Homo sapiens: one gene and its partners. The protein of the gene in region 4 interacts with the protein of the main gene of each other region in a biochemical or structural test. Each region holds a gene or a part of one and is shown on either strand. Other genes may lie near its edges. The genes, in order: WRNIP1, TRIM40, THAP12 and RIGI.

Region 1 (7,036 bases), on a different chromosome or scaffold from region 4:
TCTAACTTGATGCATATCCCTGGTTGAAACTTCTACACAGCAGTTATCACCCTGACCATGAAATGTTCCTTTTCCTTAGTGGAAGAGATTTGTGGGGTTTGGTTTGTAATTTAGAGAGGGAGAGTTTAACCAAGCCATGCATATTCTTTCATTCTGCCTTGAAATAACAGGTACATTTTTACTTACTGCACTCCTTCTCCAACTTACATATCCAGCTGTCTAAGTAGTATCCTCCAAATTCCAGTATTACCCAATGTGTAGAAAGCTTCAGGATTTAGGCACCTGGAAGAGGAAAGAAGAGAGCTTCCTATATTCTTCTGTTAAAATTAAAGCCCTTCTCATCAGTTGGAGAAGCCAAGCTCTCTTAAGTCTGTTTCTATCTCTAGGTTTTGTTAACTAGAAATAGAATCTTTTCCAATGCATTTATTTTAACCAATTTTCCCTTATTATAAATAGTGTTTTATTATAACAACATAATTTACTTCCTATTGTTTATTTCCATGTAGGATGTTATGACATTTTGGGCAGTCTATCCCCAGAATAGATTTTACCTCTTTTTATTGTATTCTACCTTTGGAAGGTTATTTTTAAGTGCAAAACACTTTATAAATATATGCTTAATTTTAATATATGCTTAAATTTAAAAATAATTGTAAATTCTCTAGACTGGGAACACTCTTTCAAAATAGTTTGTGCCGCAGTTTGCTGAGGGATTTTGCCAATATCAATACAACTATCCCTTCATCATTCTTGGCATGAGTTCTCTCATGGGCTTCCCATTCTAAGATCTCAGGGTATTTTAGTATATCTTACTTCGTTCTTCAGAACTTAGTAAATGGGAGTTCAAGATATATTGGGTGTTTAAGTGGAACCTTTCCCTGCTCAGTCGTCTTCACAGTGAATCTCCATTTTGTAATTTTCTTGTGTGATCATTGTGAGTGCTGTCAGCAGGTCCTGTATTACTTGGACAGAGTTGCCGACAGATTGATCTGGGCCTCGAAATACTTTCTTCTTTTGGACGGGGTGAAATTTAAAATGTGGATTATACCCAAGGGGAGGAAGAAGAAGGGAGTGGCGCGAGCTCAGGTAGCTTTCGTTGTGGCAGCACCTCCATTCCCCATGACTCCAAACCAGAAGTGTGGAACCACTTGTACTTTGGTCAGGAGTTTAAAAGCCAAAGGAAGACCTTATTTTCCAACCACATAAAATACATAATCATTGCTAAAGACTTATTCACAGCATACTGTTGATAAATCAATGGAGTAGACGGCTAGCTGGCTTCTGTCCTAATTAATAAGGCCTGCCTCCCTGTCTGTATATGAGGACTAATGGAAATGAGGCAGTTTATACTAGTAAATACCATGGTATATAAGGCTGCCCATCTCGTCACTGTCCAAAGAGCATGCCATGCCCCTAAATACATACAAAAGACAAATTCATGGAGAAGGGATACATACCAAAATACTAACGTCAAGGTAGTCTAGCAGAAGGTGAATTTTCTCCCTTTGTCTATTTTTAAAATTTAATGTAAATTTTTTTAAAGTAAATGTTGACAGGTCTGAGTAGCTTGTTTTTCAAACAATTATTTAATGGTTAAGGATGTAAAACTATGTAAAATATGGTCCCAGTTTTTGTTTTAGGTTAGCTGTAAGGTTGATGGTTGCATGGGTGAGTGGATCGTAAAGTCAGCACTTGGCACAGTAGCTTTCATTCTGCTGGAAATATCAAGTACATTTTTATCTCTCAGTGCTGGAAATATGGATTCTTTTTGTTTTCTCTATACTTTCCATATAATTTATAAGAAGTAAAGGTTTCACTCTGAGATTATGATAAAACTGAAGTTAGTCCATTCATTTTGCAAATATTGGATGCCTATCATCTACCAGGTCTGGGAATACAAAGAATAAAATATTCCTCTCCTTGAGGTGCTCCGCATAGTAGGGATGATGAATGTAATGTAATCAACACACAATCCAACCCATGGTGCAGGATATAGGCTAGTTCAGTCCGTTAGGATCCAATGGGGCTCCTGCTTTGACTCCTTTTTCTTCCCTCAATTGTCCTGAAGGCTTTTTGTTGCTAGGCAGCTTTCCAAGGAGAGAGAATCCATTGTTTTTACTAGTTCTGAGGCAGAAATGAGATGCCCAAGCAGTTTCTGTTCTCCCTACCTGTCTTCCCACACAGGTTGAGTGCAGTAAGGGGCTGAGAGTGCACCCTTCCCTCTCAGGCATGTCACGTACTGCTACACCCCTGTGATGCTGGTCCTTCCCCATACATTTTCTTTAGTATATGTTCTGTCCATCATTATCTTCTAAATCATCTTCCAGAAGACTTGCTAACTAATTTCTGGTTGAGCAGTGATCCCCAGGCTTTATAGAGTGCCAGTGACATGGCCTCGGTGTTTGTTTTTTTGTTGTTCTGGTGAGGTCTGCTGAGAGAATGCTACCATCAGGAGAGAGGAAGATGGGTCTCCAGGCTGCACCACTGGCTCTGGGGCCCAGGCAGTTGGCATGAGTGAGGAGAGAGTCATTTGTTGTAAAGCTGGGGCTGGCCAGTTGTCTTAGGTGTGGTGAGAGACCCACAAGGAATAACTGGAAATCAACTTTGGTAAATATGGGGGTGAGATGAGGCATCTTTAAGGCATTGGGAACAAATCCTTCCGTGAATGAAATGCAGATTGGTGTTATTTGGGTTACTCAGTGAGCAGAGTAGTGTCAGTGAGTGGGTGTATGCTGAGGAGTTCTGCATTGATCCAGCAGGCAAGCTGGGTCCCCTTCGGAAACTGCCACCCCTCCCCGGCCCAGCCCCGTTGGTGCCTGTACATTGTTTTCCAGGTAGCTGATTCGGACAGTCCTAATGGGCTTATTATTTACTGTAGATGTTCTCAGCTGAATGTTGATGACATGGGTGAACTGTAACTGAAAAATTTTATTTTTTTGCTTCACAAATGTGCAGCTAGCAGCTCAGCCAGGAATAAGACCCCACTAAGTTATGAAATGTGTTAGATGTCTTGTTTAACTCAACTAGGGATAGAAAATTTTACTGAGTCAGCCTTCTGATCATAGTTAGATCTTATTTATGAGGGTCCAAATTTAGAAATGTGACTGTAAGTTTTAGTCCTGATGTTCAGAGAGAGGTTAGGTGGCTTACCCAGGGTCTCATGGCTATGTACCAGCAGTCTTCTCGTCGCTTCCCAGGCTAATGACCTCTCTGCTACCCTGTGCGGATTTTGCATGATTAGTGTCCACTATGAGATGACCTACTGCAGCATCCCAAGATTCCCCAGGCCAAGAGAATCCTGAGACCTGCTTCTAGGACCTGCTGTGCTCAGAGTAACTAGGGACCCAATTTGTTGTTTTTAAAATGAAGGAATTGAACTGCATGATCTGGAGCCCTTCAGAGCTAATATTCAGATATAATGCTGACTCTCCCCTGTGTGGAAAGTGGTCTAAGCACATCTGTCTCATCGGATGTAGGCTGCATTTGGAACATGTTTTCCATACACGGTAATGAGGTGCTAGCATTTCTAATAAAGTTTTCACTGTTGTGCAGGGTAGAACCAGAGAGACCACCTGTCAACAGTGACTTTCCAGGCCAGTCAGTGTCTGTTTCACACAGACTTAGATGTATGAACCTATGCAGTGAGATACCCTCGACACTCATAAGATACAGGGCGATAACCTGGTGACTTAGGAGCCCCAGTCAGTTCGTAGTCTTGATGATGCTTAAGCACATTGACAAAGGTGAGAATAAGAGGCAAAGGCCTTGAACTCTTCAGTGTCCTTGCTGAGAAGTATGAGTTTCTAAGACATGTGCAGAACAAGAAGTATGCAGCCTGAGTGTGACCGTAACTAACCCTGCTTGTGTTTCAGGCCCGCCATGTTCATAGAGGATAAAGCAGTAGACACCCTGGCTTACCTCAGTGACGGTGACGCCCGAGCTGGGTTGAACGGACTGCAGCTGGCGGTGCTGGCTAGGTTAAGCTCTAGGAAGATGTTCTGTAAGAAGAGTGGGCAATCCTATTCTCCCAGTAGAGTTCTGATCACAGAGAATGACGTGAAGGAGGGCCTACAGCGATCCCACATTTTATATGACCGGGCAGGTAAGTAATTCACCTGTGGAAAGAGTGAAACCATACGGAAAGAAGTGTGTGCACACATTCTCATTTCCGGAAGCCTGACTGGGTTCCGGAAGCATTCCAGCTGGGTCCAGAGCATTCCAGTGATTCTCAGGTGGATCTGCATGTTGGTATTAAGCCTTCTACACAGGGCTGACCTTTCCGAAGAGAGGCATGAAGCAGAAGCTGCCCTGTTGAGAATCTAGAGGAGTTTTGGGGTTGGAAATGGCAGGCTGCACATTCACCTTAGAAGGTAGTTGGCTATTCCCCACCTTGCAGAATACAATCACCTTTGAAAGCCTGTGCATTCACTTGACAATGAATATGTTTTGTGATCATTTACAACGGCAGTAAATAAAAAGAGGACTTTTGTCATAATGACTTATTAGTTTTAATTGAGAATTAAAATGCTTTATTTCTAGAGTCTATACTAAAAAATAGTCATGGATCTTGAAGTTTTTATTTTATGTAGTAGCTTTTTCAAAAATTTAATTTTGCTGTGTGCACTTATCTGTTTTTGTAGAACTGCATTTACAGATAGCAGATTTGATACCAGCTCTTATTAAATCTGTGACTTAGCAATATTAAATGTCATTAGCACAGCACATTTGCATCTTTTTATAAAAGAAGTGGGAGATGAATATAACATACTGTAGATTAGCAAACTTCTGCTGCTTGAGCATTTGTGGGACTTTGGATGGAATCATGTTGCAGTAACTGTGGAATATAATTTCCACACTTTTCAAAGCTCTGCCAGAAAAGGAGGCTGATAATTGAATGTTCCTGATCTCACGTAGGCTGTGCCACGTGACAATGGAGAGTCCTTACTGGTTAGAGAAGGGGTGGAGGGGCTTAAGAATGACTTTGGTTCCAAGCGCTGCCTCTTCGTGGGTGAGCACACTCGCTGCATGACCTAGGGGGGCTGACCAAAGCTTTTTGGCTTTAGCGTGCCTCAGCTGATGGTAGCTCAGGGGTGTTCATTAGTGCTAAGGACACACTGGCAAGTTGAATAAATAATCCTGTCTACATTGTGACGTGAATGTGCCTCAGCGGGGCCTGCTCAGATGGCTGGCTCTCCCTAGTGCTCTGGAGCATGACGTGAATGCTTGCAAAGTCTGAAAAGCAACACATTCTAGGTGTGTAGAGCCCTGCTTGACTTTTGGTCAAATAGAAAAAATGTAGATATGAACAAGAAAAAAGATTTTAAGACATTAAAAAAATCTCACCATGCCGGGATCGCCATTGTTTCTGAAGTGCAGCAGCAGCGGTCTCTCTCTCTCTTCTTGTAGGTGTCCCAAAGGATTTGCCTTGTTTTGATTGGAACGACTAGGACTGTTCTTTGACATTTTATCAGACTGTCACTTGAGATCCATATAACATGGCATTCACTAACACTCAGCCATTGAGTATTTTATAGGTGTATTCATTTTTTAAATTCTCAAAATTGCTTTATGGAGATAGCTATTAATATTACCCCCATTTTAAGATAACAAAGCAAGTGGTGAAACTGACCCGTAAATCCAGGTCTTACTGGTTCCCAAGACTGTCCTTCCCCCCGTCCGCATTTGCCTCCACACCAGCCTTGCCATGCTGTTACTGATCTCACCCATTACATCATGCTCCTGAGAGGGGTCACCCGTCCATGCACATACAGAGCGGATCTTGGAGGGGTTCAGTCCTAGGAATCCCACTTCCTGAGCTCCACGTTGCAGAGCTCTGCACAGTGGGGATCACCTTGTCTATAGCTTGGAGCTGGGGGGTGGTGGAGGCTGCCTAGTGCCGCTGCCTAGTGCCAGCGCCTTAAGAACCCCACATCCTATACATCTTCCCAGTATGAGTGTGTTTACACACCCCACCCCAGTGCAACATGTCTGCCCCACAGTGGATCCGCAGACACATAAATATCATTCAGATCTTGGAGAAAGCTGCTTTTACAGGCTTTGCTCTATAAATAGGGATAGTGGAAGCATTGCCCTGGAAACCTGTTAGCTTATACTCTTGGGCCTTTTTATAACTCCAGTGAGACAAAGACCCACCCCCAGAGTTGTGATTATTTTTGTATATGCCACCTAGTTCATAGTTACCCACTAGTAGGATCCAGTGATGTTTCTGCATCAGAGTGAAGGAATTTCTAAATGAGAGCAAACTCTCTGCCATGCATTGACATCGGGGTTCTATAGAAGTCGTCAGATTTCAGGTTATAAAGCAGTGTGTAATAAAAGCAAACATGGAAGGTAGCATAGAATAATACTAGTATCTATCACTGATGCAAAAGAATCTTTTTACAGTGCCTGCTCTGTGCCAGGCGTGTGTTATTTAATACAGCCCTGTGAGGTAAGTGGTCTCGTTTTTCCCATTTTACAGATGAGAAACCTGAGGCACAGTGAGGATCAGGAACTTGCCCATGGCCCATGAGCTTGGGGGTCCAGCCCAGGCTGTTTGGTCCCAGAGCCTGTGCTCTTGTCCATTATACTGGTGGTATTGCCCCTGGCATTGACAAAGTGGGAAAAGATGACTAACCTGTGTAGGGGGAGTTTAAATTTGACATAAAGTGGTGTGGGTAGTTTCTTCCAGCCCCCATGCCCGTGAGTTTAGCCAGGCCTGTTACCTGCTACCCTCTTCCCCGCCTTCCTCCACCCTGCAGAGGAGCAGAGCGTAGCCTGAGTGCCTGGGCCAGCAGGGTGAGGGAGTGGGCCAGAACCATGCAGATGTCATCCAGGACACCCTCTCGGCCAGTGTCCATAGCACTCTGACTTCACCAGGGGAGCCCTGCACAGGAGACACTCAGTTTGTTCTCAGAAATCCAGTAGCTGGGCTGACCCATCCATCTGCCCTGGCTCTCAGAAACCAGAATCACTCAGGCTGAGCCGTGGGTCCTGCAGGTCTTTCCCCTGTGGGAGGCCAGCATCTTCGCTTGCT
Region 2 (3,125 bases), on a different chromosome or scaffold from region 4:
AGAGCCCTTCCTTATGCTTTCTTATTAGTTCACTTATACATACATTTAAAATTTTACTGGACACCAGCTATGAGCCAGACACTGTTCTAGACATGAGGACACAGACAGAATATGATCCCTGCTCACCCAAAGAAGTGAGGCTTATACAAAAATGACTAATATACAATTGTATTCATTATCCATTACTCCACAAAAATTACCACAAATTTACTGCCTTATAACAACACATGGCCAGGCGCGGTGGCTCACACCTGTAATCCCAGCATTTTGGGAGGCCAAGGTGGGCTGATCACCTGAGGTCAGAAGTTCAAGGCCAGCCTGGCCAACATGGTTAAACCCTGTCTCTACTAAAAACACAAAAAATTAGCCGGGTGTGGTGGCGGGCGCCTATAATCCCTAGCTATTAGGGAGGCTGAGGCAGGAGAATTGCTTGAACCTAGGAGACAGAGGTTACAGTGAGCCGACATCACACCACCGCATTCCAGCCTGGGCAACAGAGTGAGACTCCATCTCAAAAACGAAAACAGAAAACAAAAAAACACACACACATTTATTGTCACACTGTTTCTGTGGGTGGGAAATTTTGGCACAGCTTCACTGGGTCCTCAGCTTAGGTACTCACAAGACTATAATCAAGGTGTTGGCTGGACTAGGTTCTTATCCGGCTCAGTTGGGGAAGAATCTGCTTCCAAGCTCACTCGGGTTGTTGGCAGAATTCAGGTTCTTGCAGCCACAAGACTGAGGGCCTCTGCTTGTTGTTGGCTGGAAGCTGCTCTTGGCTCCTAGGAGGGGCTCTAAAAGGGTGGGCCAGCAAGGAGGAGTTCTATACAATGCAACACAGTTGCCAGAGTGACACCCTATCACCTTTGCCTTATTCCATTCATTAGAAGCAAGTCACAGATCCCACTTACACTCAAGGGGAGGGGACCAAACAAGGGCATGAATTCCAAGAGGTGAGGATCATGAAGGGAGGCTGTCTTTGAGTCTGTCTTCCACAACAATAATAAATAAGTGCCAGGTGAGTGGTACAGACAACAAGTACTGCAGGAACTCAGCTGGGCTCCACATGTGAGGTGGTGTCACTGCTGATGAGCTCGGGCCATTCAGAGGCCTGGAGGATCCTATTTGAATGAGATTGTGAGAGATGGGCACTACCATCAGTTTACAGGCAAAATGGAGATTTCACAAATGCTCCTGGAGACCATGGGCCCCGACCTCCACAGTGGCAGCCCCAAGCATGAGCCTGTCCTGGAAGGAGGCTGGCTATCGTCCAAGAGTCAGAGGGTCAGGCATCAGGTGATGACTGTGGACATGAAGAAATGGTGACATGTTCAGGAGCTGGCAGGCCCGAAGATGCACTGGGTAGACCCAGTGGGGGCCTGGACAGGTTGGAGGAAGGAGAGAGAGGAGGCTGAGGTGAGCCTGAAGTGAGGTGTCCCAGGGATGAACAGGTCAGAGCTTCTGAGGGGGCTGAAGAAGCAATTCACTGACTCCTTTCTCCAACTGGGGATAAATAACCTCTAATTTCTGTGGAGCACTCCTAGAAACAAAGAAATCTTTCATAGATTAATATGTATTCATATATTCCATTGGCTCTTCCATTGGCCATGTAGCATCAAGATACAAAAGCTAACGGAGCAGTGGGTCTCCTTGACCTCTGTGCATGTCTGTGTTGTGTGGGTTTATATGCACATGTGGGAAAGAAGAAGGGACAGCTCGTACCTGTTCAGTAAGTCACCAGCATTCTAGGAGAGAGAAAAAGTGAGAATCATAATTGGTTCTCAGGTTCCTATCACCTCCAAATTCCTTTCCCAATTCACTCTTGGAGGCCACTCTGGGGTGCCACCTTGAGAACTGGGGGAACATAGCAACACCCCTCTTCTGTGCCCATTCTGCTGCAGCAGCACTCTGTAGCCTGGAACAAGCCACATCTACCACAAGTCACCACATATCACACAGGCCCCTCCCTCTTACACCTCCCAGAAGGGTGATGCAGATGGGCTGCCTCCTATCGGGGAGAATCCCAGCCCTTGGGGAAGGCCTCAGGGTATGCACCTTCAGTGTGTTGGTGTCTAATTCCTTGGCCGTCCTTTCCAGATCAATGACCAGGCTTCTGAGCTGTGTTACTGCCCTGGAGATGTCAAGGATTCTGGCCGCTTCTGCTGGCATGTGCTCCAGCTGGCCCAGCCACTGCTGAGGGAGGGCACCCAGCTGTTCCCTGGTTTGGTGCTGGCTCTCCGGCCCAGCCTCCAGCCTGTGGTTCCCGTGGTCTACCTGAAACTACAGGAAAGGGGCTCCCTAAGACTCAGTGTCAGGTGGCTCCCTCCTGGCCCTTCACAGTCTCTGAATGTCTGAGCAGGAATGCTGATTCCTCAGTCCTCTTGCCCTCATGGTGTTGCCTCTGTGTGTCACAGGTATAGCAGAAGCAGCTTTGATTCTCATAAAGGCAGGGACACCTCACCTTTCCACCTCACTCTCTGAATATCTACAGATGCCATGTGACCAAGAGGAATAGAAAGGTAGACTGTCAGAGACAGAAATGGAGGCCTATGGCGGCCGGGCACGGTGGCTCACACCTGTAATCCCAGCACTTTGGGAGGCCAAGGCGGGCGGATCACGAGGTCAGGAGATCGAGACCATCCTGGCTAACATGGTGAAACCCCATCTCTACTAAAATATAGAAAAAATTAGCTGGGCGTGGTGGCAAGTGCCTGTAGTCCCAGTACTCGGGAGGCTGAGGCAGGAGAATGGCGTGAACCCGGGAGGCGGAGCTTGCAGTGAGCGGAGTTCGTGCCACTGCACTCCAGCCTGGGCGACAGAGCAAGGCTCCATCTCAAAAAAAAAATAAAATAAAATAAAAAGAAACAGAGGCCTATGGCTTGTGTAGTAATTTTCAGTTGACGAGACACTGGTCTCCTTTGATCCCTACTGTGATCCAGGCAGAGCAGGACTGGTTCTCATTTAACATGTAAGTCACATAAAGATCAGAGGGCTTAACTTGCGTAGGTCACTCAACCAGCAAACTTTGACGCCAAGGCCAACACCCGGGTTTTCAGCCTCCACGACCATCTGCCCACATCAGGCTGTTCCAGGGACAGACAGATGTCCAGAATAGTTAAGTAAGG
Region 3 (7,584 bases), on a different chromosome or scaffold from region 4:
ATGTATTTTGGTGTCATATCTAAGAATGTGGTGCCAGCCAAGCACGGTGGCTTACACCTGTAATCCCAGCACTTTGGGAGGCCAAGGCGGGCAGATCACCTGAGATCAGGAGTTCGAGACCAGCCTGGCCAACATGGCGAAACCCCGTCTTGACTAAAAAAAAATACAAAAATTAGCCAGGCATGGTGGCGGATGCCTGCAATCCCAGCTACCTGGGAGGCTGAGTGAGTAGAATAGTTTGTGAACATCGGTGGCAGAGGTTGCAGTGAGCTGAGACTGTGCCACTGCACTGCAGCCTGGGCAACAGAGTGAGACTCTCAAAAAAAACAAAAAACAAACAAGAATGTGCTGCCAAATCTAAAGTCATGAAGATTTATCTGTATTTTTTTCCTAAAAGTTTAATGACATAGCTCTTATATTTAGGCCTTTGATCTCAATAAAAGTATAGGCCATTTGGAGTTCATTTCTGTATATGGTATGAAGAAAGACATCTATTCTTTTTTTTTTTTCATCTATTCTTTCTTTCTTGAGACGGAGTCTTGTTCTGTCACCCTGACTGGAGTGCAGTGGCACGATCTCGGCTCACTGCAACCTCTGCCTCCTGGGTTCAAGCGATTCTCACGTCTTGGCCTCCTGAGTAGCTGGACAGGCACGCACCACTGGGCTCAGCTAATTTTTGTATTTTTTAATAGAGACAGGGTTTCCCTATGTTGGCCAGGCTGGTCTCGAACTCCTGACCTCAAGTGATCCGCCTGCTTAGGCCTCCCAAAGTGCTGGGATTACAGGTGTGAGCCACCATGCCCGGCCTAGACATCTATTCTTGAATGTCTATCAGGTCTCTCAAACCCAAACTTCTAGTATTCCTCTACCAAACCTGCTCTTCCCAGTCTTCCCTATCTCAGCAAATGCTCACGTTAAAAATCTTGAAGTCGGCTGGGCGCGGTGGCTCAGAGCCTGTTCTAGCACTTTGGGAGACCGACACAGGAGGACTGCTTGAAGCCAGGAGTTCAAGACCAACCTGGCCAACATAGATTTTTAAAATCTTGAAGTCGTCCTTAAGTTCTCTTTTTCTTTTACAATCTACCTCCAAACCATTAGCAAATGATGTTGGCTTCACCTTCAAACCATATCTCAAATTTACCATCTCCTCCTCTATTAATCTGGATTATTACAACAGCCTTTTAACTGGTCTTCCGGCTTTCACCTTTGCCTCCCCACAATCTAATGAGCAGCCACTGATCCTGTTAAAATTTAAGTCTCTGCTCTAAACCCTTCAATGACTTCCTATTTCACTCATAATAAAAACCATAGTGCCTTCCAAGACCTACAAGGTCCTACCTAAAGAATTTGCCCCTACCATACACACACCTTTCTGGTCTCATCTCACCTCTCTCCCAGTCCCTCTCCCTGGACTCCTGGTTGCCCTGTCTTTGCCTTCTTTGGAATGCTGCTGCCCAAGGTATCTCCATGGCTGGCCCCTTCACCTGGTCTTTGCTCAAATTCACCTTCTTAGTGAGGCCTTCTCTAATCACTGTATTTAAAATAGCAATTGTGCGTCCCTTGATACTACTTATTCCCCTACCCTCTAACCTTTGTTTATTTTTCTCCACAGTATTTATCATCATCCGACACACTACGTATTTTACTTGTTTATTCCCCCCCCATTAGAATGTAATCTTCATGAAAGCAAGGACTTCGATTTGTTCATCTGTAACCCCCACTGCTCACAACAATGCCAACACAAGTAGACCTTCAATAATTAATTGAACTAATTAATAAATAACATAAATTATAGTCGCCCGTTGCTGCACCTGTTCCCTTACTGGACTGAGAGCTTTCTGCAAGCAGTGACACCCTTATTCACCCATGAACTCCCAGCACCTAACATTTGCGCTCGGCACATAGTAGGCATTGATTTTAAATGAATGAACCAACAAGACAGGCCTATGAAACATCTCAGCCTTTCAAACACAGTCCCTATGCTATCATTCCCTAAATATGTCAGTGTGTGGGGGTTATCCGAAGGAAGAGGTTCCAATACCAATTTCCACGCCCTCACGCGTACACCCTCTGTTATCCCTACAATACCCAAGCGAGAAAATGAGTAACGGTGACAGCCAGAAAATGAATCCTGAACCGTGCAATGACAAGTCCGAAGGAGAAAGCAGTTGCGATGAGATGAAAGAAGGTAGCGGGACTCAAAACAGAAACACTGTCCCGGGGGTGGTGGCAAGGAGAGGGAAAGGCCCCAGTGGCCACAACCATAGAGTCCTGCTCTCTTTTGACAGCTAAGGAAACTAACGCCCAGAGAGGAAAGCGACTCCCCCGAGGTCACACAGCAAGTGAGCCACGGCGAGAACCCACAGCATCCCGCGTCCGCGCGCCGCCCCAGCTCCCTCGCGTTTGGGGTGGTGTCCTCCGCGCAGAGCCCCCACCAGCGCACGTGCTCCGAGGTCCCCGGACGCCCGCCCGCCCACGGCTCGGGGCCGGCTCCCCATCTCGGTCCAACGCTGGGGTCGACGGCAGTGCGCTGCGCCCGCCTCCTGCGCCCCTCTCAGCCAGCCCGGGAGCCCGCCAGGGGCCGGCGGCTGGCAGCGCTCACCGCGAAGGTGGGCCCGGGCCGCCCGCTCTGCGCCCGCCGCTTACCTGGCAGGGTCCCGCGGGAACCTGAAGAAGGCCAAGTCGGACTGCGTGCTCTTCCGCGTGCAGTTGGGGGCAGCGCAGAAGTTCGGCATCGTCGCCCGCCCGCCGGCCGGCCCAGCCCTCCCCTCCCCGCCTCCTCAGGGCAGTCCGCCCGCCCGTCGGGGCCGGGGAGGGGAGCCAGGCCGGCCGGCCGGCTCGGCAGGGCCGACGCGCGGGGGAGGGGCGGGCGGGCTAGAAGCCGCGAGGGCCAGGAGGGGTGCCGCGGTCCGAGGCCGGGCTGGGGACGCGGCTCCACAGTGCTGTGAGCGGCCGGGAGGATTTACCGCCGCCGCCGCCGCTGGTGCACCTCCCGCCCGCCCGAGACGCTGCCGCCTCCTTCCCACAATGCACCCTGACGCCCGGGGGTGCCCTCTCTTCCCTCAGCCTTCCTCCCCCGCCCCTCCTTTCCGCCTTCTCAGCAGGCGGGCACGCGCAAGGAAGCGCGCCTGCCGGGGTGTGGCGAGGCGGAGGCGGGACCTGGCGCGCGCCGCCGCAGTGCGACTGCGCACAGTCTAATCCGCGGGGAGAGAGAATTGCGCATGCGCGCCTGTCTCCCGGGACGCTAGAGCAGGCGGTTCCTGGGCTGCTCCGGTAGGTTTGGCGTGCGCGGGTTTCTGCAGATCTAGGGCGAGCTTGCACGTTACATCACCGATGCATCTCTTCTTGCTTGCTTAATTTGCCACCACTTAGGCCTTTCTTGCAGAATTCGCCATATACTCCTTAAGGGCCGCGGAATCGGAGCGACCTTGGTGACTGGCAAACTCTCGGCAGATGTGCGTGCACTGGTTTGATGCAGACGTGGTTGTAGGCGATTTAATTTTTCCCAGCTTTGCAGCGACTGTTGGCTTCCCAGAACGGATCTCCCCAGCCTCGACTGGAAGCTGAGGGACAAAAATTCATAAAAGCAATTACTCTTTCCCGGCGAGGCTTCTAGAAGAGCAAGAAGAGCGATATGATTACACCTGCAGCCCTATAAAGATTGATCTGTCCGTCTTTCCCTTACAGTCGTGGCCTGTTAAACGTTCCTGTGTTGTTCAGTGCCAGAATGAGTGACCGCTATTTAGAACAAAGGATTAGTATCAAATTTTGCGTGAAATTGAACAAGTCTGCAAGTGAGACCCACCATCTTTTAAAAGAAGCTTATGGGGATGAAGTCATGTCAAGGGCCAGAGTTTTTGACTGGCACAAAAGGTTTAAAGAAGGACGGGAAGATGTTCGAGATGATGCCCGAAGTGGGCGTCCAGTCACCCACCGAACAGATGACAATATCCAGAAGGTCAAGGACTTGGTTTGTTCAAACAGGCAGTTAACCGTGAGGATGATGGCTGAAGAGTTAAATTTAGACAAAGAAACTGTTAGGCTCATTTTGAAAGAAAACTTGAACATGAGGAAGATTTCTGCAAAAGTTATTTCGGGTGTTTTGAAGGGTGAGCCTAAACCACGAAAACTTGACTTTCGGTCCGATCTTTCAAAGGAAACTAGGAAAAATAGCTCATGTTTGAGGAAAAAGGTAACAGGTTCTGAAACATGGAGTTATCTCCAGGGTGAAGCTGGTGGGGAAATGCCCCTGCCGGTATCCCATCCCAGAGTCCACTACTCTGCCAGTCAGCTTCTGCAGGCGTCATCTTCAACAAGCCTTCCCCCCAGGGTAGCTGAGAATTGGTTCACCCCATGGTGAGAGGAATGTGAGTTAGCTGAACCAGAACTAGGATGCTGCCTCACTGTTAGGCACCTTCTTTGGCTGCTCACGTATTTTTCAGTCTTCACCACTCCTCCCTATGTGCCATGGCCCTCCTCATTACTCTTTGCTGGACTCTTGGACCATTTTCCTTGCTGTTCTCCATAACTTTGAAAAACTTTTGGCTGTTCCCTTCTGGTATTTGCTTGTTCTTGATTTCTTTTGCTCAACAAGTTTGGATTTCTTCTCTGCCCAGACCTTAGCTTGTTGTGGCTGTCCTGTTCCTTTGTTCTCAACCTTCTGCCTCAGAGGATCATGCCAGTGAGAAGAGAGGAACAGGATCTCCTGGAATCTGTATCTCTGTGCCCAGGGAAGCATGCTTTTCTGGGAGGACCCCAAAAGAAGGCTTACAGTTTCAGCCTGCTTTGCAGTCAGGGCCTGAGGTATGGTACAGAAGGTAGTAGCATGCTGGTATTACTGAACAGTGCTGGGCCTAGGGGCTGATCTGGCCCAGATGACTCAGTAGGCACCCTTAGGAATCAGGGGTTGGCCACCAATACTGATCTTCTCACAGGCCTACACCTCACAGAAGAGCTGGGTTTGTTTCATTCTAGTCCTATGCTTTGGACCTCCACTCATTTGGGTATCACCCCTGTTGGAAGAGGAGGATCTGGTGCTAGAAAATATAAACCCGGGGACCCAGGCAAGGCTGTGTTGTGTGGGGAGGAAGACCAGGTGGCTCTCTAGTCCCTGAATTAAGGGAGCCTGCTGCCTATGTGCGGATTCCCACACAGCAGCCTGTTTTTAGTAACTAATGCCTATAGTTTTGAGAACTTGCTGTTTTTAGGACACTGCTGGGCATTGACAATGTGGAGGTTATGAACAAGATCTCCAAGGGCTGATGGGCTTCATGGATGAGATGGTTCTTGAACTGGATCCATGAGGATGGGTGAGACAGGGCTGTGAAATTAGGGAAAGCTTCCGGGGCAGGTGGAACAGCATGAGGCTTCCAACCTGCATCAGTAGAAAATGACACTGGCCAGGTGTGGTGAATCACGCCTGTAATCCCAGCACTTTGGGAGACTGAGGTGGGTGGATCACAAGGTCAAGAGATCGAGACCATCCTGGCCAACATGGTGAAACCCCGTCTCTACTAAAAATACAAAAATTAGCTGGGCGTGGTGGTGCACACCTGTAGTCCCAACTACTCAGGAGGCTGAGGCAGGAGAATCTGTTGAACCCGGAAGGCAGAGGTTGCAGTGAGTGGAGATTGCGCCACTGTACTCCAACCTGGCGACAGAGCTAGACTCTGTCCCAAAAAAAAAAAAAAGGAATTAGAAAATGATGACACTATTGGCTAAAATAACAAAGTTTAAAGAGGAAGATAATGGTGTTGCAGCAGATGAACAATTTGGGATAATTTGCTTTCTCTCCTAAGCCTCCAACTCTATGCCACTTGTTGTTAAATTGCTTCCCCTGAGTCTGTGAATAGGTTTGTAACAACCAATTTGATATCTGATTTTCCATTTGGACCCCGACAAGCAGTTTCTGCAAGTTCAAACTCTGTCTCTTCTCTTCCTGCCTCTGCCAGGATTTATGGAATGGAACTTTTCCCAAGTGGGTTCCAAGTAATACCACATAGACTGGAAACATTCAGGGGGCAGGGGTTTGGTAATAGCATTTCACAGAATTGGCCAGTCTTTGTTTTACTCAAGGATTTTTAGATATAACAGCTCCTCTTAAACAATATTGCTTGATAGTAGAGGCACAACACTCATTCATCACAGTTACTTTTAGTGCTGTTCTTTCACTTTCTCTACTCACCTCCAAAAATTACAAGTTCCTCATTAACACCTGTTTTTGTTTTGTTTTGTTTTTTGAGATGGAGTCTTGCTCTGCTGCCCAGGCTGGAGTGCAGTGGCACGATCTCAGCTCACTACAACCTCCGCCTCCCAGGTTCAAGTGTTTCTCCTGACTCAGCCTCCTGAGTAGCTGGGATTACAGGTGCATGCTGCTACACCCGGCTATTTTTTGTATTTTTAGTAGAGGCGGGGTTTCACCATGTTGGCCAGGCTGGTCTTGAACTTCTGACCTCAGGTGATCCACCCACCTCGGCGTCCCAAAGTGCTGGGATTACAGGCGTGAGCCACCACGCCGGGTCAACACCTGTTAGTTTTGAGACACCTTGAAAGCTAGACGTTGTCCCACAAAGAGAAGATACTGTGTAAGAAAACTCTTAAACCAAACAACAGCTTATAGACCTCCAGCTCCTTAACAGTTTCTAGACATTCCATTTCAGGACAATGAAGTCTTCCTACATCAGATGCGGCTCTAGGTTGCCCACAAGCACTTGGCACCAGGGACACTGCACTTTAGGAACAAAGTCCCCACCACTAGTTCTTGCAGCTTTGTTGCTGAACCTCATAGTAATCCTTGCTAAGGCCTACCCAGTGGTAATTGTTGCAGATTTATATGCTCCTGGTCCCAGGCCAGGATCCCACAACCATACCTACAGGAGTTGTTTCTAACCTGTTATTAAACAGAGGTCCTGAGACAACTTACTTCTGGATTTTATTCCAGTCCTATGAACAGGGCTGGTATGTCCCTGCCAGTGATGCTGGACCAAGACCCATGGTGGAGTGTAGAGTACCAGAAGCTATGTTGGTCCAGACATGGTTTAGACACAGCAACCAGAAGCAGGTAATTAGGAGTGTGAATTCAAATGGTTCCAATTGGCTATAATGAAAAGGACTTATCCAGAGCAAACCATTCACATTTGGCTGCTCAGAATTTCTAAACCCAAGGGTAGAGCATGATCTGGGCATCTCCAAATAGGAAAGTTCTTATATGAGTACTCCTAATGTGTCCACCCACCAAATCTATTTTATTGCTGATGCACGTTTTGCCCTGGCCTGCACCTTGCTGCCTAGGCCTCTTGAGCTCCTGGTCCCGTAGTCTCACACATCCAGCTATGTGTCCGTCACACCCCAGGCTCTTGTCCTTGACTATCTTCAGACACCTCTCAGTTTATTCTTCACAGTTTGCTCTTACTCCTCTCTTTCCTTGTTGCTTTGTTTTCTGGTCCTGGGTCACATCTTCAGTAGCTGCTTTTGGTCACTTTGGTGTGCTGATCCTTGTATTGACCTTTGGGTCATGGTTTTCCACTTAACTTACAACTCTTCTCTGATTTTTTGGATCCTTCTTTCAGCTCCCCGCTTCAGCTG
Region 4 (7,036 bases):
TAAAAACAGAAAATAATGCATATAGGTGAGGATGTGGAGAAACTGCAACCCTGTGCCTGATTGGTAGGATTGTAAAATGGTGTTAACAGCCATGGAAAACAGTATGGCAGTCCCTCAAAAAATTGAAAATATATATCACCATATGATCCAGCAATTCTGCTTCTGGTGTATTTCCAAAAGAATTGAAAGCAAGGTATTGATGAGATATTTGCACATCCATGTTGATAGTAGCATTATTCGTGATAGCTTACAAGGTAGAAGCAACTCAAATGTCCATCAGTGATGAATGGATCAACAAAATGTGATATACACATACAATGGAATATTATTCAGCCTTAAAAAAAAAAGGAAATCCTGGCACATCCTGCAAAATGGACATACATTGAGGGTGCTGTGCTGAGTGAAATAAGCCAGTCACAAAAAGACAAATATTGTATTTTGCCACCTATATAGATTATCTAAAGTAGTCAGATTCATAGAAACAGAAAGAGTGGTGGTTACCAGGAGCAGGGGTGAGGAGAGAAAAAGGAATAGTTGTTTCATAGAGTTTTAGATTTGCAAGGTGAAAAAGGTCTGGATTTTTTTTTTATAACAAAATGAATTTAACACGACTGAACTGTACATTTAAAAATAGTTAAGATGGTAAATGTTTTATCTGTTTTTTACTACAATTTTAAAAAAGAATGAGGTTGAACATCTTATGTATGTTTCTTGGCCATTAGTATTTTTCTCTGAACTTTCTAAATATGATTTTTAAATAAATATCTTTTAAAGGCATGTAGAATAATATTAAGTAAATTTCCCATTTACTTAATATTATCTTAGAAAAATTAGAAGGAAAGTTCCTTGTGGGCAGGAATTAAGGTTTATATTTCTTTTTGCCTTCTTTACTGCTTTCCACTGAGAAGATACTTAATAAACCTGTTGACTCTGACTTTTTAAAGACAAATCAGGGATTGTAGGTGAAGTCTATGAGTCACTTTGGAAGAAAGATTTTATACTAAGATCAAAATGTAAGACTTCAAAGTTTTCCTTAGTACTTTTTCCCAATAGATAATAAATATTGCTAGAAGACCTAAAGTGTTGGCTGACTAAAATGAATACTGTTTTCTTTTTGAAAAATCAATGACAATTGGGGGTAATTTACAGATATTTTTTGAATTCTACCACCATACATTCAAACATGATTTCTATGATACTAATCTCAAAGTATTTTTCAGTTGGTTTCATAAAAGTCCACATTTTTTTTCTTTTTTTTCAGGTTATTCTGGACTTTATGAAGCCATTGAAAGTTGGGATTTCAAAAAAATTGAAAAGTTGGAGGAGTATAGATTACTTTTAAAACGTTTACAACCAGAATTTAAAACCAGAATTATCCCAACCGATATCATTTCTGATCTGTCTGAATGTTTAATTAATCAGGAATGTGAAGAAATTCTACAGGTAAGTTAATATAAAATACTAAAATTGGGGGAAATAATTATAACATGGGAAGGTCTTCTGTTTTCTATACTGTTTTAGACCTGAGAAAGATCATTGAAACCCACAAAAGTACTCATAGAATAGTACTTTTTTTTTTTTGAGACGGAGTCTCGCTCTGTCGCCCAGGCTGGAGTGCAATGGTGTGATCTCGGCTCATTGCAACCTCCGCCTCCTGAGTTCAACCAATTCTCCTGCCTCGCCTCTCGAGTAGCTGGGATTACAGGTGCGTGCTACCATGCCCAGCTAATTTTTGTATTTTTAGTAGAGATGGGGTTTCACCATGTTGGTCAGGCTGGTCTCGAACTCCTGACCTCGTGATCCACCCGCCTTGGCCTCTCAAAGTGCTGGGATTACAGGCGTGAGCCACCGTGCTCAGCCAGAATAGTACTTTTAATGTGAACTGAGTAATTTTTATGTCACAAAGTTTTTTTGAAGTTTGCCCTATTTTCAGTTAAAATCACCACAGTCTGTGAATAGTATTTTATGCAAATTTAAATTGAACAGTTGAGCAAATGAGAAAGGGCTACAGACTCTAGCAGTTAAGTGTTTAGACTCTGGACACAGATGAATTTTGTTAGAATCATAGCTCAACCACTAGCGGTATGATCTTGGGCAAGTTACTTAGTTTCTCTGAATATCTATCTGTTTCCTTGTGTGTAAAATGGAAATAATAATGTTACCTTATAATATGGTATTTTCATAAGGGTAATGAGATAATATATGTAAAGTACTCATGTATGTCTTGCACAGAGTATGTGTACAATAAACTTTAGTTATTATGGTTAGTAAAAGTCATACAAATTCCTCAACCCTGAAGAAAAATTTGTTAATATTTTGTTATCTGTTTCCAAATATTGCTATATGCCAATATACCCATATTGGGAATGGTTGTCAAATGATTATTTTCTTAATATTGCTGATGAGGATAGGTATAAGAACTTAGAGGTGATGAGAAGGCTTGGCTTGACATAGTGACATCATGTGTAAAGGACAAAGATGAAGGAAAAAGTATCTTAAAAGACTGTGTTGGATGGGGCAAAAATTGTCATGGATATGACCCACTGAGCTGTAATGTACAATGGCTTTAAATCAGATAGTACATGACTGACATTTCTTCAGTAAAAATTGATAAAGGGAAAACTTTTGAGATAATTGATCAATAAACTACAGTTACCTTGCTTAGATTTGCTCTACTAAGGGGATGATGGCAGGTGCAGAGAAATTGGTGGAATGCCTTCTCAGATCAGACAAGGAAAACTGGCCCAAAACTTTGAAACTTGCTTTGGAGAAAGAAAGGAACAAGTTCAGTGAACTGTGGATTGTAGAGAAAGGTAAGACACTGTACCCTCCTCACAGCTCTACTTAGGACTCGCTCATTCCAACCGGTCTTTTACATCCCATCAGAGGCGTTTTTCCCCTCAGATAGCCAGAGCTACATCTCTAACGCGAGACCAGCAGGAAGCTGGATTCTGGGAGGGAGGCAGTTACTTGCCTACAAAATTAGTTTGGTTGCATATAACCCCTAAAAATGGACTGGGGAAAACCACTCTCATCCAGAATTAGCCCATCTGGCCCAAAGGATTTGAGGAAGGCAAAATCCGAACTCTCAGTCTAAGTTTAGATTATCAGAGAAATAGCTTGAGAATTCTAGAGTTAAAGGTTCAAACTCCAGGACTTACCCCCTTTTCAGAGTTGATTTCTTGACAGACATTGCCTGGTTCTCTTACTGGAAGCCATCTGGAACTGAATCCGACGGGTGAAAGAATTGGTTGTCATTAAGTGTCTGAACTATCATTTGGTTTCTTGAAGCTGACACTCAGCATTGTTTCAAAGGCTGAGTTTGGTAAACATCTGAATATCTGGTCTTAGCTTTCCTAGGCTTCTTTAGATCATAAGTTGTTTCAGAAACTGTATAAATACACATCTGATTTAATGGGTCAAGAGTCAGTCAGAAAAGGAAGACATGAATGTCTGCTAAATCATGCTCTTTTTTTTTTTTTTTTTTTTTGGTGCATACGAATCCCTCCGAGGTCTTGTTAAAATGTGGATTCTGATTCAGTAGGGCAATACGTTCCACACTTTGAGTAATATAGCTCTAAATTACATTGGAGGTCAACGCCAAATTGAGATTTTAAACTCAAAATGATTCTTTCAACTGTTTTAAAAGGTGAAGGGGAGTGGTTGTGAGAAATTTTAATAGAAGTTAAAAATCTTAGTGTTATGACCATTTTGTGGAGCTTTCACCATCAAAACTATAATCAGATTATGTGAAGATTCTAAGACTTTTTTGGTCTTAAAAAGGTATAAAAGATGTTGAAACAGAAGATCTTGAGGATAAGATGGAAACTTCTGACATACAGATTTTCTACCAAGAAGATCCAGAATGCCAGAATCTTAGTGAGAATTCATGTCCACCTTCAGGTACCTGGTATTGTTTGTCCTTTTCCATAATGGTGCTCTTCTGGTATTTGGTGTGGGGGCTTGTTTTGCAGTACCCAAAGTCACAGCCTTGTGAAAAGTTTTGTAAGGAAAATTAAGAAAGTAAAGAGAATTTATGTTACAATAGATACTTTTTCTATATTTAGAATGCCATTCTCTCCTAGTTCTTCCACTATCTTTTTTTCTTCTTTTACTATCTTTTTTTTCTTCTTCTACCACTAAGAAAGTATGGGCGTGTCTATATTGGAAATGCAAATAGAGTCTTCACCAAAACCCAATGTCTATGAATTCCCAAATCAACCTTGCTTTCTAAATAAATACTACTTCTATTTCTGAGTCACTTGCTCAATTTCCTTTTAGGATCCCTGGGCTGCCCTGCAAGTTGATGAAGTTAGTGTGCTACCCAAATGCGCCTGGCTGAGAGGTTGAGTAGGGGCTGAGATCCAGCCTGTGTCGTTTGCAACACAGTGCACTGAGGGGCTGTGTCCTCCAAGAGGAGCTCCCTTTTGTCATTTACACAAAGGCACTGTATAAGTTAGCTGTGGCCCTGTGAGGCCCCCTTATGCTTCTCAAAGCATATTTTCTTGATGGTTTTATGAGACCGGCAAGTTGCATAATATGCCATAATAAAAAGTTATGTATAAAAGAGTATCAGGAAGGAAATTGGGATTAATAGTGGTGGTAGAAGAAAAATGATATTAGAATAACATCATAAAGAGAAAATGTGCAGATTACGTCTGCAACTGAATGTTACAAGTTTTTTTGTTTTGTTTTGTTTTTTTGGTCATTTCAGAATAAAATCTGTTACCCCTTGGAAAAAAAAAACAGATACATGAATATGAGTTGCTTTAAATTTTCTGACACGTGAAGATTCTTGCATGCCTTTTGTTGTTGTTGTTGTTATTGTTTTTTGAGACTGAGTCTCTCGCTCTGTTGCTCAGGCTGGCGTGCAGTGGCACAATCTCAGCTCACTGCAACCTTGGGTTCAAGTGATTCTCCTGCCTCAGTCTCCCAAGTAGCTGGGACCACAGGCATGTGCCACCACATCTGGTTAATTTTTGTATTTTTTTTGGAGAGGTGGGGATTTCAGCATGTCGGCCAGGCTGTTCTTGAACTCCTGACCTCAAGTGATCCATCCACCTCAGCCTCCCAAGTGCTGGGATTACAGGCATGAGCCACTGCACCTGGCCTTTACATGTCTTTCGTGTGAGTTTAATTCACTTAACCTTTTAGAAATTCTCCCTTTCTCTAAAATGGGTAGGTTAGACTCAGTAGATAATTTCCAAAGTCTTTGCTAGCTCTTAATGATTTATATGCCTACCTGTTATTGAGATAAAGCCTTTGATTATTTTTTAAAACTTCTGGTTATGTTGAGAGAAAATATCATTTGAGAACTTGAAGAACGACAAAGCATTATTGCTCCTTAATAAGAAATTGCTTTGAGAATCCAATGTTAACAGTTTGGTTTTCTTCAAAGATCGTGGGAGGATTTGTTGCTTTTTTCACATACAGCATTGCCTTTAGTAGACAGCTTGTCTTACCCTGAATGGGGCCATTCTTTCTTTGGTTTCTGTTAGCCTTCCATGATTGTATAAAAAATAATTCATGTTTTTTTTTTTTTCTTTCTTGCCATCAATACTTTGTCACTGAGAGAATTCTGTACTTCAAATTAGTGGAAAAGCTAGAATGGTTACCAAGAGAAAGGATTCTAAACTTTCTCCAATGAGGATCTTCTTGCTGGAGTCAGAATTTGTGGACATTAGACTGTAGCTATTGCCGTGATTCCTCAGAGCAGGAACTGTTTGGTAATTTTGCTCCTTTTGTATTCCAGAAGTGTCTGATACAAACTTGTACAGCCCATTTAAACCAAGAAATTACCAATTAGAGCTTGCTTTGCCTGCTATGAAAGGAAAAAACACAATAATATGTGCTCCTACAGGTAAGCCTATTGCCATTACTTACATAGTTTTTCTGTTTGCTTCCTTTTTTTTCTTTTGTTGAATACTGGGACAGAATGGGCAAGTTTCAGTTTTTTCCTTGTTCCATGTGTCTTTTGAGAAAACTGTCCTAATATAATCCTAATGTTTTTTATGGGATTATGTAATTAATTAATTATGTACATTAATGTATTTAATGTATTTTCTTTACCTTTCATGAGAAGGTAAAGAAAAGTGTCCTCTTTTAGCTTGCTTTTGGGTCCTGGCTGTTGGCATGCTACTTAGGGAGCAGCTTGATATTTTTTAGTCATAGTGTAAATTCTGTAATCATTAACATATTTAAATTATCAATTAATTAGTCAGCTCAGTGGTATTAGAAGAGCCAAAAATAAACACCTTTCCAGAGAAATATCTAATATATGAGTTACATGTTTTCTTTTTTCCTTACATGTTAAAAGGTTGTGGAAAAACCTTTGTTTCACTGCTTATATGTGAACATCATCTTAAAAAATTCCCACAAGGACAAAAGGGGAAAGTTGTCTTTTTTGCGAATCAGATCCCAGTGTATGAACAGCAGAAATCTGTATTCTCAAAATACTTTGAAAGACATGGGTAGGTATAATAGTTGCTTCAACTTCTTTTTCTCCAGCTTCATGTAATTGATGTGTTTTCTGTTTTGTTTTTGACAAATGATTTAAAAAAATTTATATTAGATTCAGCTTTTTTATAATCCAGATGTTATCCCTTCATGGATTCAAGTCTTTTTTGTTAGATGTACCAGAAAACTTAAACTCCCCTGGTTTGCCCTTCTATGGGGAGTAAATGACTTCAGGAATAAATTTGATGTTTACGTGGCACATTTAACTTCTTTAGTGATTTTATAATTTATTTGATATTATTCTTTTACGTACTCTTTTCTCTCTTAGTGACTTAAAATAATATATAGTACTATAAATTACAACTAGCTTGGATTTATTGATCTCTTACTATGTGTCAGGCTCTGTGCTAAGGACTTGCCTACAGCTATTCTTCTTTTGGACTCAGGGAGAATTTAATCAGTTGATGTTCTGATCTAGCATTTCATCTTTGTGGTTCCTTATCCACATCGTGGTTAGTAATATGGAATTTCTGTCATTTCCCAGGTATAGAGTTACAGGCATTTCTGGAGCAACAGCTGA

What was found.
Region 1: the proteins of RIGI (region 4) and WRNIP1 form a complex in vitro, tested with the Homo sapiens proteins (one study listed by BioGRID).
Region 2: of the proteins of RIGI (region 4) and TRIM40, one has a biochemical effect on the other in vitro, tested with the Homo sapiens proteins (one study listed by BioGRID).
Region 3: the proteins of RIGI (region 4) and THAP12 form a complex in vitro, tested with the Homo sapiens proteins (one study listed by BioGRID).

Annotation. Positions count from the first base shown.
Region 1 is NC_000006.12:2,775,391-2,782,426, forward strand, and holds part of WRNIP1 (ATPase WRNIP1), read left to right. Parts: intron 1-3,872; coding exon 3,873-4,102; intron 4,103-7,036. UniProt on the Homo sapiens protein: Functions as a modulator of initiation or reinitiation events during DNA polymerase delta-mediated DNA synthesis. In the presence of ATP, stimulation of DNA polymerase delta-mediated DNA synthesis is decreased.
Region 2 is NC_000006.12:30,146,140-30,149,264, reverse strand, and holds the end of TRIM40 (E3 ubiquitin ligase TRIM40), read right to left. Parts: intron 2,281-3,125; coding exon 2,056-2,280; intron 1,746-2,055; coding exon 1,723-1,745; intron 1,541-1,722; coding exon 1,453-1,540; 3' UTR 537-1,452; downstream 1-536. UniProt on the Homo sapiens protein: E3 ubiquitin-protein ligase that plays a role in the limitation of the innate immune response. Mediates inhibition of the RLR signaling pathway by ubiquitinating RIGI and IFIH1 receptors, leading to their proteasomal degradation.
Region 3 is NC_000011.10:76,378,102-76,385,685, forward strand, and holds the start of THAP12 (52 kDa repressor of the inhibitor of the protein kinase), read right to left. Parts: upstream 3,032-7,584; 5' UTR 2,736-3,031; coding exon 2,647-2,735; intron 1-2,646. Other genes in the region: protein GVQW3, read left to right, coding at 3,728-4,109. UniProt on the Homo sapiens protein: Upstream regulator of interferon-induced serine/threonine protein kinase R (PKR). May block the PKR-inhibitory function of DNAJC3, resulting in restoration of kinase activity and suppression of cell growth.
Region 4 is NC_000009.12:32,488,168-32,495,203, reverse strand, and holds part of RIGI (antiviral innate immune response receptor RIG-I), read left to right. Parts: intron 1-1,261; coding exon 1,262-1,443; intron 1,444-2,652; exon of another isoform or gene 2,653-2,665; coding exon 2,666-2,813; intron 2,814-3,783; coding exon 3,784-3,903; intron 3,904-5,752; coding exon 5,753-5,860; intron 5,861-6,316; coding exon 6,317-6,470; intron 6,471-7,000; coding exon 7,001-7,036.